Regions from separate parts of the Homo sapiens genome. Here all the other regions are linked to region 1. The links come from fine-mapping of genetic effects on gene expression. A gene starts in region 1. Each other region holds a variant in brackets. All regions are shown on one strand. Distances are from middle to middle.

Region 1 (6,260 bases):
GCAGGTTGGGGAGGGGAGGCGCAGGGTTCCGATTCCATTTGTCTTTACAAAGGGACCGCCTTTCCCTCATGGACTTGCTTATTGTAGGTGTGTCAATTGTGAAGCTGAGTTGCTTAATTCTAGGGCTGATTGCCGGGAGCTAAAGGATCCCCCTACCCTGACATTCCCGGGGCGCCCTATTCTGTCTTCCTCTTCCTAAGGACTCCCCTGACTGCCAGGCCACAGCCCCACGGCGGGCCCCTGCCAGAGGCTCAAGAAAACCAACCCGACTGTCCCCGCAGCGCCCTGCTCTCTGTCCACAGGAGGGCGCTCGCTCCGAACCCCAAGTTGTCAGCCACTGGAAGGCAGGCGGAGAGGGACTGGAAGAAAGGGGGAGGAAAGGGGTGTAGGGCGGGAACCTAGAGGGGCGCGGGAGGGGTTAGGGAGCGCGTACTTTTCCAGAGGGAGCTGAATAGAGCCAAGGCTTGGGCACGGCTGTGCAGAGAGGGAATTCGGCCCCCGGTCTCTTGCAACCAACAGCGCGACTTCTCCCTGCAGGGCAGGGGAGGCAATAGAGAAGGAGGGCCTCCAAGAAGGTGCATCTCCCAGCTGTTTACCAATCCCCACCCAGTGGGGACAGAAGACAACTTAATTCCACAAAGTTGGACCCCCAAGGGAAGTGGGGAGGTGAGAGGGAAAGAAGGATGTGGTCTCCATCTAAAGTCAAGATCTCTTCCCCAGAAGCTAGAGGTAAACTTGCCCAGCTCGGACTAGGCCTAGAGAGGCTGAATGATGTGGCATCACCCGGAAACAGCGTTTACCCTCCTTATCCTCTTCCCTTCTGCCTGAAAACACTAATCCAGATGATGGACAATGATTCAATTAGTCATCTTCTCTGATGGGGGCTGAGATCCAGGCTGGGATCCCGTGGAAGTGCCGGGTGAGTCATTACGCTGAGGCTGCAGGGATACCCCGCCCCATTACTGAACACCCCGTGGTTCACGTGTTGGTGCAGCTGCCAGCTCCTCAGACCACCGTTCCAACAAAAAGCCCTCACCCTGAATGCAGGGACACACTCCAAGAGTGTGCCTCCCCCACTCCACCTGGGACCTGGGCAGCCGCAGTAGACTCAGTCACACAGCGTCCTCACTGGTGTAGGAAACTCCCTGAGCCAAGCCTCAGGCATCTCAGATGTGCCCTATCTAACCCCTGCGCTGTGATGAGAAAGGGGACTTGCCCCACCCCAGGGCCCCTCTTGCCACACCCAGAGCAAAACACATCTGGGAGCCTCTGGGACTATCTCTGCCTCACTTCCAGGCCCCCAAACCCCATCACATCCCGGCCCAGGGACCATTTCCATCTCCAAGCTCATCCCAGGACTCTCTCTACTGGAAACCACTTGAGCCTTTCCTTAGGATGGCGTTGCCAAGAGGGGCATCTCTCCTCATTCACATAAAGGCACCTTATGTGCTAGAGGCAGCCTTGTCAGGGTGGGTCCTCTGGCCTGGCGAGTCAATGAGTCATTTTCAGAGGTTGACCGTGAGCAAATCTTCCAATGGCTGGTGTCCCACTAAGCCAAGGAGGAACAGAAATCATTCGGAAGCCAGGACGCAAGGGTAAATTTGACCAAAAAAAATTTATTGTACAATTACCCACCACTGGATTTGACTCAGAGAGGACCCCCAGAGGGTGTCTCCATCTTCCCTATTTATTTTCAGCCCTTGAGGGCTTCATTGTAGATCAAAGCCAAGGCCCCCAGGAAGGTGACATACTCCTGGAAGTTCACCTCCTGGTCCTTGTTCCGGTCCAAGTCTTCCATCAGCCTTGCAATTTCAGCATCCTGCAGCTTCTAATGTGTTAGAATGTGAAATCCATACTCAGTGGTGATGACAACCCTGGATTCTTCCCCTTCCCCCTCCCAGGCAATCCTCTCTGCAAGTGGCTCTGTGCTCCCTCATCACCAAGGACCCATGTCACTTTGGCATTGCTTCTCCTCAGCTACTTCTCAGTTACTGGTCCTCATTTGGAGAGATGGATATCCGGCTGGAAGCATCCCCTACCCGCTGGGAGAGTGGGTCTACAGCTCAGGGTCTACATGTGGACCAGGGCCTCAGAATGTGGGTAAATGTGAGTCAGATGCACCTGGCACCTCTCTCTCCCCTAATCCTGCTTCCAAAGGACAAGGGTGGGAAAAGGGGTCCTGGGGAGGAGGCCACTCACCGAGCCAATGGTGAGCTCCTTCTGGATCAGCTCCTTCAGCTCCTTCTTGCTCAGGGTGTGCTTGTCACCCTCCCTGCCGGAGTACTTGTGGAAGATGGCCACGAGGAGGCCAATGGCCTGATCCAGGGGGCATGCCATGGCTGAGGGCTGGGCTTGGAGCTGGCAGCAGAGGGCCTAGTCAGTGCCATGGGAGCAAGGACTTCTCACCCACACACCCCAATAATGCTGCCTGCACTAGCCCCGCCTCCTTTGGAACCACCCAGTCTCAGGCCACACACAATGGCATCAGGAGACAGCCCAGGGCTTGAAGGGGAAGGAGAGAGCACACTAGGGCCAAGGCAAGAGAGGTGGCTTAAGGATTCTAAGAAGCATATAGGAACAGTAGCTTTGGGCACAGCTGAGAACTGTCCTTCAGGGGATCCAGAAGTTGAGGAGTATGGCTGGGCAGGGGAGGGGAATGGAGGCTGCAAAGGCAGCTTAAACACAGCTTCACAGGGCCACACATGGTGGCAATGACACACCCAGGGCACTCCCTTCCGCACCCCAAAAGAGCACACCCCATTGCGATCCCTTAGCCCAAGGCCTGCCTGGCACAGCACTGCTGCTCCTGACTATCCCTCCAGCGGGGGAGCGCCACAGATGGCCCCAGTCTGGATCCAGCGGCTGAACTGGGCAGGGGATGGCTGGACCCCCAGCGTGAGGGCAGCTGGCCCTGGAAAGTACCCAGGGCTCCTGGAGAGAACTCACCGGTAGGGAGGCGGCCAAATGCGACGCGAGCGGTCGAGGGGATGGGCTGTGTCGCAGTCCGACTGGCCTTATAGCGGTCGGTGCCCCGGAGGCCAGCTCGGCCAAGCCCACCCCGCCCGCCCAAGTCCCGCCCGCGCCCCACCCTGCGCCGTGGCTTACACAACGCACATTCGCGGTTTACCCCCTCGACTTTCCACGCCTCCTGCCCGGGGCTGTTCCGGGTTAGGACGGGATGGGGGAGCCCAGCAGTGCCCACTGCACGCCTGGTGACGAGTCTCCCCTCATCTGCGCAGCTCAGTTTGCTCAGTTTGCTCTTCGTGACACGTGACTCGGCAAGGGGAGCAGGAGGAGGACTGCGGCGGTCACCCCTGCTTCCTCTGCCAGACCGTGAATGTGACCCTCGAGCCAGCGCAGCGTCAATGTGGGCAAGGAGGGCGCCTCACAGGATGCCGGTGTCCCACAGAGGATACTCAGGGTCACCCCAGAGGAGATAGGGGGAGTAGCCAGTGGTGTAAAGGATATCTACGGCGCCCATCCCCCACCAGCAACAAGTTCCTACCAACACCTCCACTCCTTCCCCTCAGTGCCCCAAATTCCATTCACTACAGCACCTTTGGTGTTAATGTGCATGCACGTGGGAGCCCAGCCCTGTAAGCACCATTCGTTATTTACGGGGGAGTGAAGGCCTTTTCAGACCCTCCCCTGAGAAAAGATTTTGATGGAGGAGGCAGGGAGAGAAGAAAGCACTGTCCCCCATAGATGATGAGAGTGGTGCTATTGAAGGGGAAATGGTGAAGAGGGAGGGGGCTGGTGTGGAGGCCAGACATGCCCTTCCTACAGGTGCTGCCAAGGTGGCCTCCGGTGAGCTGTGGACAAGTCAGGCCTGCCTGCCTATCACCGCCCTCAGGAGCCACTCCCAACCCCTCCCAGTGTCCTCCTCTCAAAGCAACTTTCCCTCTTAACTTCCTCTGCATCCTTGCAGAGTTCCCGCCTGGCCTAACTTCCCCATTTTCCAGGCAGGCAAAACTAAGCCATGACAAAACCAATGACGTCCACACCAAAGAAGGAGAGGAATGCAGTGGGAGCCCAGGACCCTAACCCCCAGAGGCAGAAGCTGTCTCAACCCACTCAAGGAGAGACCCTTCCTGTGCTCCCCTCTCCCCAGGCCAAGGTAGACAAGACAGCTTCAAAACCAGACTCCCAGCACCTGCGATGGAAACTTTATTTCCTCCCATGGAAGGGTCCATCTGGGAGGGAGAGGAGGGCAGGGGGCCAAAGAGGGTCTGTGAGAGGAGCAGCCGAGGTCAGCAGCAAAGGGTGGAGGGTGAGGGTGGAGGGCAGCCCTGGTCACTTGTTGTCCTCTAGAAAGAAGTCGTTGTAGGCCATGCACAGCATGGTCAGGAACACCGAGTACTCCTTGAAGTCGATCTCCTGGTCGCTGTTCTTGTCCAGGCTCTTCATCAAGTCATCGATGCTGCTCTCCTTCATCTTTTGTGGACCCAGGTGGAGAGACAGCTCAGACCCCGCTCCCAGCCCTGCCCTCGCACCACTGCATGGTGTCATCCCCACCCCGAAACTTCAGGGTGAGCCCCAGCTGAGTCAATGACACTGTCAGCATCTCGACCCCCAGAGTCTGCCCACTGCCCACACCTAGGGAAGGGCCTGGCATGAGGTAGGGGGTCAGGGACCTGACTCCTGAATGGAAATAAATGACAGCAGGAATGCTAGCCTAGCCTGCCTTCCCTGCAATACTGTCCCCCAGCCAAAGAAACAATCATCTAGGTTTTATACCAACACCTGATAAAAACAGCTTGCTGGGTCAGGTGTGGTGGCTCACACCTGTAATCCTAGCACTTTGGGAGGCCGAGGCGGGTGGATCACCTGACATCAGGAGTTCGAGACCAGCCTGACCAACATGGTGAAACCCTGTCTCTACTGAAAATACAAAATTAGCCAGGCATGGTGGTACATCCCTGTAATCCCAGCTATTTGGAAGGCTGAGGCAGGAGAATCGCTTGAACTTGAGAAGCGGAGGTTGCAGTAAGTAAGATCATGCCATTGCACTCCAGCCTGGGCAACAAGAATGAAACTCCTTCTCAAAAAAAAAAAAAGAACACCTTGCTGATTATGTGGCATTGAGCATTATCCAAGTCTCTGAGTGACTCTCTCCCCATTCTAAGGACTAGGTGAGAATAACCCCGGACAAAATGTCTCTCAATGAGAGCAGTGCACTGGGGCTGTGAAGCCACTGCATCCCTCCCCTGCTAGGAGAGCTGTGCAAGAGGCCTGCCTGGAGCCTGGTTGTGCACTGTTGTTCAGTCCCCTGATGTCCCAGCCTGGCTCCATTAGGACGATGGAGTCAGGGTCCTTTGGGTGGAACAGGAAGAAAATATAGACAAGCAGATCCTGATGTCTCCTCATCATTGCCGTCAGCTACAGGTTTTCACAGGAGACATTGGGACTTACAAAGGCGGAAACTGCTTGTCTGTCACGTGATCCTAGTCCCCAGCCTGGGCTCCTGTTATTGCCAGGCCCTCCTCTGGGCGTCTCTCCTTCTGTAATTAATCCCTGCTGGACCTGTGGCCCCTCCCTCTGCCCTCATTAACCTCCAGGATGCAGGCAGCCTGGCAGAAGGCCAGAGATCAGGCCTGGGGACGCCCATACCTGCTTCTGTCCCCTGCCCATGTGGCACACTGTGGACCTTCTTTCTGGGAGGGCCTACCAGGGCTCAAGGTGTGATAGATGGAGAGGCACCCAGGCTAAATTTTAAAGGAAACAGGGAGGATGATTCACAGGCCTGGCCCAGAACTCCAGCTCAGCCTCCCACTAGCGGATTGTCCTTAGGCAAGTTATTTGATGTATTTGAGCATTGATTTTTTTTAACTATAAAAATAATAAGACTAGGCACAGTGGCTCATGCCTGTAATTTCAGCACTTTGGGAGGCTGAGGCGATAGGATCATTTGAGGCCAGGAGTTCAAGAACAGCCTGGGTAAAATAGTGAGACCCCATCTCTACAAAAAATTTTAAAAATTATCTAAGCGTGGTGGTATTTGCTTGTAGTCCTAGCTTCTCAGGAGGCTGAGGTAAGAGGATCACTTGAGCCTGAAAGTTCAAGGCTACAGTGAGCCATGATCGCACCACTGCACTCTAACCTGGGTGACAGAGTGAGACTCTGTCTCAAAAATATTTATCCTTGGCCAGGCGCAGTGGCTCACGCCTGTAATCCCAACACTTTGGGAGTCCGAGGCAGATGGATCACGAGGTCAGGTGTTCGAGACCAGCCTGACCAACATGGTGAAACCCCCATCTCTA
Region 2 (6,260 bases), 220 kb before region 1:
TGAGTGAGAACATGCAGTGTTTGGTTTTCTGTCCTTGTGATAGTTTGCTGAGAATGATGGCTTCCTTCATCCATCATTGGATGAATGATGGATGGACCTTCATCCATGTCCCCACAAAGGACATGAACTCTTCCTTTTTTATGGCTGCATAGTATTCCTTGGTGTATATGTGCCACATTTTCTTTATCCAGTCTATTATTGATGGACATTTGGGTTGGTTCCAAGTCTTTGCTATTGTGAATAGTGCTGCAATAAACATATGTGTGCATGTGTCTTTATAGCAGCATGATTTATAATCCTTTGGGTATATACCCAGTAATGTGATGGCTCAGTCAAATGGTATTTCTAGTTCTAGATCCTTGAGGAATTGCCACACTGTCTTCCACAATGGTTGAACTAATTTACACTCCCACCAACAGTGTAAAAGTGTTCCTATTTCTCCACATCCTCTCCAGCATCTGTTGTTTCCTGACTTTTTAATGATCACTATTCTAATTGGCGTGAGATGGTATCTAATTGTAGTTTTGATTTGCATTTCTCTAATGACCAGTGATGATGAAGATTTTTTCATGTGTCTTTTGGCTGCATAAATGTCTTCTTTTGAGAAGTGTCTGTTCATATCCTTTGCCCACTTTATGATGGGGTTGTTTGTTTTTTCTTGTAAATTTGTTTAAGTTCTTTGTAGATTCTGGATATTAGCCCTTTGTCAGATGGATAGATTGTAAAAATTTTCTCCCATTCTGTAGGTTGCCTGTTCACTCTGCTGATAGTTTATTTTGCTGTGCAGAAGCTCTTTAGTTTAATTAGATCCCATTTGTCGATTTTGGCTTTTGTTGCCATTGCTTTTGGTATTTTAGTCATAAAGTATTTGCCCATGCCTATGTCCTGAATGGTATTGCCTAGGTTTTCCTCTGGAGTTTTTATGGTTTTAGGTCTTACATTTAAGTCTTTAATCCATCTGATTTAATTTTTGTATAAGGTGTAAGGAAGGGATCCAGTTTCAGCTTTCTATATGGCTAGCCAGTTTTCCCAGCACCACTTATTAAATAGGGAATCCTTTCCCCATTTCTTGTTTTTGTCAGGTTTGTCAAAAATCAGATGGTTGTAGATGTGTGGTGTTATTTCTGAAGGCTCTGTTCTGTTCCATTGGTCTATATCTCTGTTTTGGTACAAGTACCATGCTGTTTTGGTTACTGTAGCCTTGTAGTATAGTTTGAAGTCAGGTAGCATGATGCCTCCGGCTTTGTTCATTTTGCTTAGGATTGTCTTGGCTATGAGGGCTCTTTTTTGGTTCCACATGAACTTTAAAGTAGTTTTCTCCAATTCTGTGAAGAAAGTCAGTGGTAGCTTGATAGCATTGAATCTATAAATTACTTTGGGCAGTATGGCCATTTTCATGATATTGATTCCTTCTATCCATGAGCATGGAATGTTCTTCCATTTGTTTGTGTCCTCTTTTATTTCATTGAGCAGTGGTTTGTAGTTCTCCTTGAAGAGGTCCTTCACATCCCTTATAAGTTGGATTCCTAGGTATTTTATTCCCTTTGTAGCAATAGTGAATGGGAGTTCACTCATGATTTGGCTCTCTGTCTTTTATTGGTGTATAGGAATGCTTGTGATTTTTTCACATTGATTTTGTATCCTGAGACTTTGCTGAAGTTGCTTATCAGCTTAAGGAGATTTTGGGCTGAGACAAGGGGTTTTCTAAATGTACAATCATGTCATCTGCAAACAGGGACAATTTGACTTCCTCTTTTCCTAATTGAGTACACTTTATTTCTTTCTCTTGCATGATTGCCCTGGCCAGAACTTCCAGTACTATGTAGAATAGGAGTGGTGAGAGAGGGCATCCTTGTCTTGTGCTGGTTTTCAAGGGGAATGCTTCCAGCTTTTGCCCATTCAGTATGATATTGGCTGTGGGCTTGTCATAAGCAGCTCTTATTATTTTGAGATACGTTCCATCAATACCTAGTTTATTGAGAGTTTTTAGCATGAAGGGCTGTTGAATTTTGTCGAAGGCCTTTTCTGCGTCTATTGAGATAATCATGTGGTTTTTGTCATTGGTTCTGTTTACGTGATGGATTACATTTATTGATTTGCATATGTTGAACCAGCCTGGCATCCCAGGGATGAAGCCGACTTCGTTGTGGTGGATAAGCTTTTTGATGTGCTGCTGGATTCGGCTTGCCAGTATTTCATTGAGGATTTTCGCATTGATGTTCATCAAAGACATTGGCCTAAAATTCTCTTTTTTGTTGTGTCTCTGCCAGACATTGATGTCAGGATGGTGCTGGCCTCATAGAATGAGTTATGGAGGATTCCCTCTTTTTCTATTGATTGGAATAGTTTCAGAAGGAATGGTACCAGCTCCTCTTTGTACCTCTGGTAGAATTTGGCTGTGAATCTGTCTGGTTCTGGACTTTTTTTGGTTGGTAGGCTATTAATTATTGCCTCAATTTCAGAACCTGTTATTGGTCTATTCAGAGATTCAATTTTTTCCTGGTTTAGTCTTGGGAGGGTGTATGTGTCCAGGAATTTATCCATTTCTTCTAGATTTTCTAATTTATTTGCGTAGAGGTGTTTGTAGTATTCTCTGATGGTAGTTTGTATTTCTGTGGGATCGGTGGGGATATCCCCTTTATTATTTTTTAGTGCACCTATTTGATTCTTCTCTCTTTTCTTCTTTGTCTTGCTAGCAGTCTATCAATTTTGTTGATCTTTTCAAAAAACCAGTTCCTGGATTCATTGATTTTTTGAAGGGTTTTTTGTGTCCCTATCTCCTTCAGTTCTGCTCTGATCTTAGTTATTCTTGTCTTCTGCTAGCTTTTAAATGTGTTTGCTCTTGCTTCTCTAGTTCTTTTAATTATGATGTTAGGGTGTCGATTTTAGATCTTTCCTGCTTTCTC[T/G]TGTGGTCATTTAGTGCTATAAATTTCCCTCTGCACACTGCTTTAAATGTGTCCCAGACATTCTGGTACATTGTGTCTTTGTTCTCATTGGTTTCAAAGAACATCTTTATTTCTGCCTTCATTTCGTTGTTGACCCAGTAGTCATTCAGGAGCAGGTTGTTCGGTTTGCATGTAGTTGTGTGGTTTTGAGTGAGTTTTTTAATCCTGAGTTCTAGTTTGATTGCACTGTGGTCTGAGAGACAGTTTGTTGTGATTTCTGTTCTTTTGCATTTGCTGAAGAGTGTTTTCCTTCCAATTATGTGGTCAATTTTAGAATAAGTGCATTGTGATGCTGAGAAGAATGTATATTCTGTTGCAACATTTGGGGTGGAGAGCTCTGTAGATGCCTATTAGGTCCACTTGGTGCAGAGCTGAGTTCAATTCCTGGATATCCTTGTTAATTTTCTGTCTCAATGATCTGTCTAATATTGACAGTGGGGTGTTAAAGTCTCCCATTATTATTGTGTGGGAGTCTAAGTCTCTTTGTAGGTCTCTAAGGACTTGCTTTATGAATCTGGGTGCTCCTGTATTGGGTGCACAGATATTTAGTATAGTTAGCTCTTCTTGTTGAATTGATCCCTTTACCATTATGTAATGGCCTTCTTTGTCTCTTTTGATCTTTGTTCATTTAAAGTCTGTTTTATCAGAGATGAGGATTGCAACTCCTGCTTCTTTTTTGCTTTCCATTTGCTTAGTAGATCTTCCTCCGTCCCTTTATTTTGAGCCTATGTGTGTCTTTGCATGTGAGATCGTTCTCCTGAATATAGCACATTGATGGGTCTTGACTCTTTATCCAATTTCCTAGTCTGTGTCTTTTAATTGGGGCATTTAGCCCATTTACATTTAAGGTTAATATTGTTATGTGTGAATTTGATCCTGTCATTATGATGCTAGCTTGTTGTTTTGCACGTTAGTTGATGCAAACAACTAACGTTTATGCATGATGACATTATGATGACGTTTCTTCATAACGTCAATGGTCTTTACAATTTGGCATGCTTTTGCCGTGGCTGGTACCAGTTGTTCCTTTCCACGTTTAGTGCTTCCTTCAGGAGCTCTTGTAAGGCAGGCCTGGTGGTGACAAAATCACTCAGTATTTGCTTGTCTGTAAAGGATTTTATTTCTCCTTCATTTATGAAGCTTAGTTTGGTTGGATATGAAATTCTGGGTTGAAAATTCTTTAAGAATGTTGAATATTGGCCCCCACTCTCTTCTGACTTGTAGAGTTTCTGCCGAGAGATCTGCTGTTAGTCTGATGGGCTTCCCTTTGTGGGACCTTTCTCTCTGGCTGCCCTTAACATTTTTTTCTTCATTTCAGCCTTGGTGAATCTGATGATTATGTGTCTTAGGGTGGCTCTTCTAGAGGAATATCTTTGTGGCATTCTCTGTATTTCCTGAATTTGAATGTTGGCCTGCCTTGTTAGGTTGGGGAAGTTCTCTTGGATAATATCCTGAAGAGTGTTTTCTAACTTGGTTCCATTCTCCCTGTCACTTTCAGGTACACCAATCAAACGTAGATTTGGTCTTTTCACATAGTCCCATATTCCTTGGAGGCTTTGTTCATTTCTTTTCACTCTTTTTTCTCTAATCTTGTCTTCTTACTTTATTTCATTAATTTGATCTTCAATCACTGATATCCTTTCTTCCCTTGATCAAATCGGCTATTGAAGCTTTTGTATGCTTCATGAAGTTCTCATGCTGTGTTTTTCAGCTCCATCAGGTCATTTATGTTCTTCTCTACACTGGTTATTCTAGTTAGCCATTCCCCTAACCTTTTTTCAAGGTTTTCAACTTGCTTGCGATGGGTTAGAACATGCTTCTTTAGCTCGGAGAAGTTTGTTATTACCCACCTTCTGAAGCCTACTTCTGTCAACTCATCAAACTCATTCTCCATCCAGTTTTGTTCCCTTGCTGGTGAGGAGTTGTGGTCCTTTGGAGAAGAAATCTTCTGATTTTTGGAATTTTCAGCCTTTCTGCTCTGGTTTCTCCCCATCTTTGTGGTTTTATCTACCTTTGGTCTTTGATGTTGGTGACCTACAGATGGGGTTTTGGTGTGGATGTCCTTTTTGTTGATGTTGATGCTATTCCTTTCTGTTTGTTAGTCTTCCTTCTAACAGTCAGGCCCCTCAGCTGCAGGTCTGTTGGAGTTTGCTGGAGGTCCAGACGCTGATTGCCTAGGCATCACCAGCAGAGGCTGCAGAACAGCAAATATTGCTTCCTGATCCTTCCTCTGGAAGTTTCATCCCAGAGGGGCACCAACAAGATGCCAGCCAGAGCTCTCCTGTATGAGGTGTCTCTCTGTCCCTACTGGGAGGTGTCTCCCAGTCAGGCTACACAGGGGTCAGGGACCCACTTAAGGAGGCAGTCTGTCCATTATCAGAGCACAAATGCCATACTGGGAGAACCACTGTTCTCTTCAGAGCTGTCAGGCAGGGACGTTTAAGTCTGGAGAAGCTTTGCCCACAGCTGCCCCTTTCCCCAGGTGCTCTGTCCCAGGGAGATGAGGGTTTTATCTATAAGTCCCTGGCTGGGGCTGCTGCCTTTTGTTCAGATATGCACTGCCCACAGAGGTGGAATCTAGAGAGGCAGTCAGCCTTGCTGAGCTGCAGTGGGCTCTGACCAGTTCAAGCTTCCCGGCAGCTTTATTTACACTATGAGCATAAAATCGCCTACTCAAGCCTCAGCAATGGTGGATGCCCCTCCCCCCAGCAAGCTCCAGCATTCCAGGTCAATTTCAGTCTGCTGCTCTAGCAGTGAGAATTTCAAGCCAATGGATATTAGCTTGCTGGGCTCCATGGGCGTGGGACCCACCGAGCCAGGCACCAGAGGAAATCTCCTGGTCTGCCAGTTGCAAAGACCATGGCAAAAGTGCAGTATTTGGGCAGGAGTGTACCGTTCTTCCTGGTACAGTCTCTCACAGCTTCCCTTGGCTGGAAAAGGGAAATTCCCTGACTCCTTGCACTTCCCAGGTGAGGTGATGCCCCACCCTGCTTCAGCTCACCCTCCATGGACTGCACCCACGGTCCAACCAGTCTTGATGAGATGAACCAATAAACCAGGTACCTCAGTTGGAAATGCAGAAATCACCCATCTTCTGCGTCAATCTCACTGGGAGCTACAGACCGAAGCTGTTCCTATTCGGCCATCTTGAAAGAGCACTCTCTTGGCATACTCAATATGTTTAGTTGCCTTACTTTCTTTTCTTTCTTTTTTCTTTTTTTGTTGAGATAGGGTCTTGCTTTGTCACCCAGGCTGTGATGAAGTGGTGCAATCTTGGCTCACTGCACCCTCGACCTCCCAGCCTTCTGTGCACCC
Region 3 (6,260 bases), 30 kb after region 1:
ATGGACTCGGAAGGCCCTCACAGCACATGGTTCTCTGGAATGCTGCAGGAAACAGCCATTAATTAAGCACTCCCACTCGGGCCTCATTTCCACTCCAGTGGAGCCATGAAGCTAAAGTGGGGAGGGGGCTGGGCCCCACCCTGGCACCTGCATCGACAGGCACCCGGAACTGGGGGAGAGATTTAACCTGCACCCCCACACTCACACCAGGACCTCCCCCACAGGCCTGTGCCACTCACCCCCACAAAGCTGGGCAGCTCCTTGTGCAGAAGTTCCTTCATTTCCCCCTTACTCAGCTTGAACTTGTCGCCCTCTTGGCAGGAGTACTTGTGGAAGGTAGTGACCAGCACAGCCAGCGCCTGCTCCAGAGAACTGCACATCATGGATCTGTGGCTGCAGAGGTGCCAGGTGATGGGTACACTGCTGAGGCTCTTGGGGCCTTAGCTCAGCCTGTAGGATCCACTTCTGCCCTATGCCCCCAAGCCACCTCACAAAACCCCTCTCTGAATGGGAAGGCAGGGGCTGCATCTCCCCCTCAGACTGTGGTTCCCTGAGGCCGGAGGCGATACCTCCATCTCACCCTGAGGGCAGACGCTAAAGCTTCCCTTGTGTCTGGGAGTCACCAAGCCTCCTCTGATGGCACTTGGGACACCCCCCTGAGGGCAGGGCTCCCCATTTTAGTGTCTGCCAGAAGGGAAATGACAGGGTGACCAGAGTCCCATTTTGATGGCATCTGCGCAGGCTCTGGGGAGCAGGGCCACATGCACCGGCTGGCAGATGGGGGCTCCTGTGCAGTCTGGCAGGAGCCATGGCTACAGCCTAGGAGCAGGAAGCTCCCTGAAGGAGTCGTTTCCCTCCTTAGACTCGGGACTCCTGAAGCCAGAGGCATCTCTCTCTGCCATCTAACTGGAAGCTCCCTTGGGCAGGAGTGTTTCCTCTCTCAGACTAGGAGCTCCCAGAGGGTGGGGAATGTGTCTCCCCTCACCCTGAAGGCCCCTGAGCCTCTAGGCAGACAGGGGCATGGATAGGGTGGGGGCAACTTAACATTCTCTCCACCAGGAAGGATCCTGTTGGAATTAGAATTAAAGATATGAAATGTTCATTGCCTTGGGATCAGGATGGGACAGACCTCAGCGGCAAGGCCTCTGAGAATACTCAGACCAGCCTGGAAAGGTTAGGCAGGTTTCAGGGTGAGGCCAGAGGAGCTATGCCAGAGGCAGGGCATGCCCTGGGCCCATCATGCCAGCCCTGCCTTCACCGAGGCAGGGGGCAGAGCTTTGCTGCTTGGGGCCATGACCCAGGCAGAGTCTTGAGACCCCTGCCTCTTGCACCTTAGTCCTGCTAGAATCCAGGACTTTGCAAAAAAAAAAAAAAATCTCAGGATTCTTTTTGCAGCAACGCCCACATGCACACCTCCTGCTCCTAGGCCTAGACCCCCAAAGAAGGGCCCCTAGACTGAGATATCCAGGGGAGGGCCTCAGAGCAACCCCTGCACTGAGACCTCACAGAGGAACCTGGAGAAAAACCCTTCAGTCGGCCGGGCGCGGTGGCTTACTCCTGTAATCCCAGCACTTTGGGAGGCCGAGATGGGTGGATCACGAGATCAGGAGATCGAGACCATCCTGGCTAACATGGTGAAACCCCATCTCTACTAAAAATACAAAAAAATTAGCCGGGCATGGTGGTGGGCGCCTGCAGTCCCAGCTACTCGGGAGGCTGAGGCAGGAGAATGGCGTGAACCTGGGAGGGGGAGTTTGCAGTGAGCTGAGATCACACCACTGTACTCCAGCCTGGGCGACAGAGCGAGACTCCATCTCAAAAAAAAAAAAAAAAAAAAAAAACCCTTCAGTCAACACTTCAGCACTTCACAGAGAGTTCTTCCAAGGGGGAAGGCCCAGAGAGGCCCAGGTTGATCCCACCAGGGAAGCTGGAATGAGAGAACTGTGGAGACAAAGACAGAGACCCACGGGGATCCTCCCCACCCTGCCCTCAGCAGGACAGAGGTACTCACCAGACCAGGTGGCAGAGACAGACCCAGGAAGGAGAGCAAGGCAGCCAGGCTCCCAGGGTGAGGATTTATATGTGGGCCCCACTGGCCCCCAACTTGGCATTTTAAGGAAACCAAACCTGCCTCAACCTGATCCCACCAAACCCTGGCCTCTTGCCATTCCCACTCATTCCCTCCCAGCCCCCTCCCTCCCAGAGAGTGCCAGCTCCACCACCAGCTGGGGGAGGGCTCTAGGCCAGGTCAAGGGCAGCCCCTGAGCCCACCCAGGCCACAGTGGGAAGTGGGAGGTGTCGTGGGGACTGGGCATCCTGGACCGGGGTGAGGGGAGGCAACCCCTGCTCTGGGGCCTGGAGACTGGTGCCAGGCCTCATTCTCATGACATGCCTGTGAGTCACAGCCCACTCCTGTGTGAGAGGCTGTGAGCACACGCTGAGACTTCATGGTCCAGTGCTCGTGTACATACATGCGCCCGTGTGTGTGAGAGAGAAGCAACCTGGGGCCACCCTTAGGAAGCTGGGGGCCAGAGGAGGCAGCTGGGGGACATCAGGAGGAGAAGGACAGGACTGACTTCAGGGCATGGATGAAGTGGAGTGACTTTTAATGGCCAGCACCAGAATACCTCTTAATGAGGTAATGAGGTAACTAAGTGTGCTTAGAAATACCTGGGAAGGTCCCTCTGTGTAGGAAGGTGTCTGGAAGGATGGGGAAGCAGTGAGAAATGGGGTTGCTCTACACACAGCCGCAGTTGGGCTGGGCCACAGTCTGTGGGGAGCATAAGGAAGTCCCGAGTAGTTAAAGGCTGAACAGGAAAACTTTGGCCTCCTCTTCTCCAGCTTGAGGGCTGGGTGGGTGGGTAGGGGTACATCCCTACCCAAGGCTGAAAACACCAGCTGGACAGCTTCCCAAGCCAGAATCCAGGCCTGAAGCACAGCCCTCAGCCACAGCCCTCTCTCACTGCCCCCCACACACATGTCCTCCCCAGACCCGGAGAAAGGCAAACACTGTGGCCATTCAGAGCCCAGCCCAAGGGAGGGCTGCCCCCTCCCAGGGCCCCTTCCTCCTTGGCCCTTTGTCTATCCCGGCCCGTCTGGGCATCAGGGCAC[C/T]GCCCTTCCTGTGGCCCCAGCTCCCCTCCCTGCTCCAGCTGTCGAGTAGCTTCTTCCCCTCCCCCAGCCCCTCTACCTCAGCCCTAAGTGACTCACCCGAGGTTCCAGGCCCAGATGCCCAGGCAGTGACTCAGCGGCACACCCTCCTCCCCCAGGGCCAGGGCAGCAGCAGTCCCAGAGCAGTAGGTGGAAGCCCCAGCCCAGCCTGGCAGGGAAAGCACTGGCACAGAGACCCCAAACAGGCCCTGCCAGGAGGAGCTTTGGATAATGACATGGCAGGAGGATCAGACTGAGAACAGGCTGGTCCCTTCCTAGCGGTCACCGTGTGACTTGGGGGCCAGCCTGAGCAGTGTACATGAAGTCAGGCCTTGGGGCCCCCAGTGTCCTCTTCTACACCTTGGCACAGCCACCGAGTGTCCCTTGCTCCCCTCAGTACTTGAACCCCTCATGCTACTTGTCTTCCCATCGAGGCCTACTTCAAGTAGAACTCGGAATAAAAACCCTTCACACTGAGGGTGAGGGACAAGGGAGCGCAATGCATCGATTTTCACAGCCATTCTTTCCTTTTAACTAAGGGCCTCCACAGGGCCTTCCCTGCTCAGAAACTGCAGTGCATCCCCATGGCTGTCCCTTAAAGCCAGGCGGTATGTTCTCACTCATAAGTGGGAGTTGAACAATGAGAACATATGGACACAGGGAAGGGAACACCACATACCAGGGCCTGTGGGCAGTTGCGGGGAGAAGGATGGGGGCAAGGGGAGGGAGAGCATTAGGACTAATACCTGATGCATGCGGGGCTTAAAACCTAGATGATGGGTTGATAGGTGCAGCAAACCACCATGGCACATGTATACCTATGTAACAAACCACATTCTGCACATGTATGCCAGAACTTAAAGTAAAAATAAAATAAAATTAAATTAAAATTAAAAATTTTTAAAAAGCCTGGCAGTGAGGCGCTCCAGACTCGGCCTGCTGCTGCGTGTCCCTTAAACACACCGGCACATGCAACTAGTGTGGCCAAGACCCTCGGCTTGCGCTGACCCCTCTGTTCAGAACGTGCCCACACATGCCCATGCCCTCTATCCTGCTGAAATCCAACCCCCCCTTCAAAGGCCACTGCAGGGAGCCTTCCCAGGGCCCAACCGGATTCAGTGTCTACCTGTTCTGTCCTGTACAAAGCGCCCCTTTTGCCCTTTTCGTGTGTACTTAGAGAATTCTGATTTTGACTGAATCACCTGTGTACTTGTTTTCTCTCAGCCTCACCCCCACATGGTGAGCTCACCGGTCTTACTCATTTCTGCATGAGGTAAGGGTCTCGCCCACACCAGGTGCCAACCAGTGCTTACGGCTACCACATGGCAACAGGGGTCACTGGAGGAGTGCTTAGGAGCAAGGGAGTCCTTCTCACCCCGTGAAATCACACCACTGACTATGCTACGAAATAATCACCTCTCCTCTGGATCCCAAGAGTGGAACCGAGACAACGGGTCGGAAAAGAGCTTCAGAGAGCTACAAATCCCTGAGGAGTGACAGCAGGAAACTGCGGCTCCCAGGACCCAGTGAGGGAGTTGAGCAAACCCCCCAGCGGGCAGAGACGGAGACAGGCAGGCAGACGAAGAAGACAAAGAGTCAGTCAGATGGAAAAGCCAGGGAGAAAAACAGAGACAGCAGCAGAGCCGCGGGTCACTAGGGTCAGCTCCTGAAGGCCTGTCCTTAATCAGGTGTCTCTGTCTCAGGAACTGAGGCTGCGACTGCGCCCATCAAATGGCCATATACCTGAGACTGGTGATAATCGTATTCATTTGCCACTAACTTGCTGCGTAACCTTGGGCAACTCCCTCCCCCACGGCAGGGCAGGAGAGTTGTACGGAATGGCCCCTAGAGTCCGATCCCAATCCCACTCTCACATTCTCCAGCTGTCTACAAAGGCAGAGTAGTCAAGACACAAGCAGGCCCTGCGGACATCCAAAGCAGTGACTCTGCCCCGGCCCAGCCTCAGGAAGCTGGGTCCTCACATTCCGTCCACCCCATCTCCGGGCTCCAGGTGCCAGAAATTTTCCACCAGCGGCCCCGCGGGATTTTGCCCAGCTGCTTCGTGCCCTCTGGTGGCTAAGGCGTGTCATTGCAGTGCCGGCCTCCTGTCATCCTCCCTTTCTTGTCCGCCAGACCCTCTGGCGCCCTGCTTACGACTCAAACAGGAGACAGTGCTGATTCATTTCCAAGCGGCCTTCCTACACCCACACCTGCTTCACATAGATGAGGTTTCCCGGACAGTCCCTGCCCAGAAGCCCAGGTGGATGTCTGAGACGGCAGCCAGATACCTGGAAGCCATTTTAAAAGCCTAGGGATATGGGTACTCGGGAGATAGGAGGCGGAAAGACCACTTGAGCCTAGGAGTTTGAGGCTGCAGTGAGCCATGATCGTGCCACTGCACTCCAGCCTGGACGACAGAGCAAGACCCTGTCTCAATCAATCAATCAATGCAAGCCTAGAGATAAGGGCAGGAGAAAACCAGGGGACAGAAGTGAGGGATTGGCCACTGCCAAGTTCTGCCCACCCACCCCCTTTCCCCAGGCCGTTCAGGGGAAAGAGAAATGGCCTCATTGTGGGGGCCACAGGTTTAGTTTAAGTCCTGACATTGCCTCTGGCTTACTGTGTGACTGTCGACCTTGGTTGAGTGGTGCCACGAACCTGAGCTTAAACGTTTTCAGCAGAAGGACCCCCTTTATTATGCCCCGCCCCACAAAATAAGTTCTGAGGTATTCTGTCTTAGCAAAATGCATTAAATAATTTATTTCCCCTGTTGTACTAATTGGATCCATAAGTGTCTCCCGGCAGCATGACCAGCATGCGAGGACCCACGTTATCACATTGGGTTCAGGTCATCCTGGATTTGTCACTCACAATGGGCGTGTGCATATCCTTTGCTGGGGGGTGCAGACTGAAATTTTGAAGCACTCGCTGTGCGTCAGGTGCTCTCCGTACATTACCCCATTTAATTCACACAACAATCCCAGGAGTTGGAATAAGATGACCCCACTTCACAGAGGAGAACACTGAGACTCAAAGTCTGCCAAATTCACACAATTAGTAAGGGGTGGGGAGGCATGACGAACACAGGTGGTCACAACGTTAAACCTTTCCTA

Direction of the effects. Alleles are on the strand shown, and positions count from the first base shown. SD is a standard deviation of normalised expression in the study named. Not every link is listed here.
As copies of G replace T in region 2, the expression in rectum of the gene that starts at base 2,989 in region 1 goes up (large effect, 1.7 SD a copy in CEDAR).

What was found.
Region 2: its variant is fine-mapped to the expression of S100A6 in rectum (CEDAR, PIP 0.95).
Region 3: its variant is fine-mapped to the expression of S100A6 in whole blood (TOPMed, PIP above 0.99).

Annotation. Positions count from the first base shown.
Region 1 is chr1:153,533,003-153,539,262 of GRCh38, forward strand. S100A6 (S100 calcium binding protein A6) reads right to left here and starts at 2,989. Exons shown (of 3, transcript NM_014624.4): 1 at 2,947-2,989; 2 at 2,200-2,358; 3 at 1,597-1,828. The coding sequence starts at 2,337. The coding sequence ends at 1,694. It overlaps S100A5 (S100 calcium binding protein A5), which reads right to left. Exons shown (of 3, transcript NM_001394232.1): 3 at 4,145-4,434. The coding sequence ends at 4,294. It overlaps LOC124904423 (a long non-coding RNA gene), which reads left to right and starts at 440. Exons shown (of 2, transcript XR_007066630.1): 1 at 440-919; 2 at 1,902-4,673. RefSeq lists enhancers at 731-1,025, 2,979-3,614.
Region 2 is chr1:153,314,472-153,320,731 of GRCh38, forward strand. No RefSeq gene overlaps it. Among named protein-coding and RNA genes, the nearest start is that of PGLYRP3, 4.6 kb to the left of the region's middle. The variant T/G (reference allele first, on the strand shown) is at 2,907.
Region 3 is chr1:153,563,495-153,569,754 of GRCh38, forward strand. S100A2 (S100 calcium binding protein A2) reads right to left here and starts at 2,350. Exons shown (of 3, transcript NM_005978.4): 1 at 2,012-2,350; 2 at 240-393. The coding sequence starts at 383. RefSeq lists enhancers at 707-1,464, 1,465-2,222, 2,342-2,401, 2,375-3,574, 3,272-3,511 and 1 more. The variant C/T (reference allele first, on the strand shown) is at 3,112.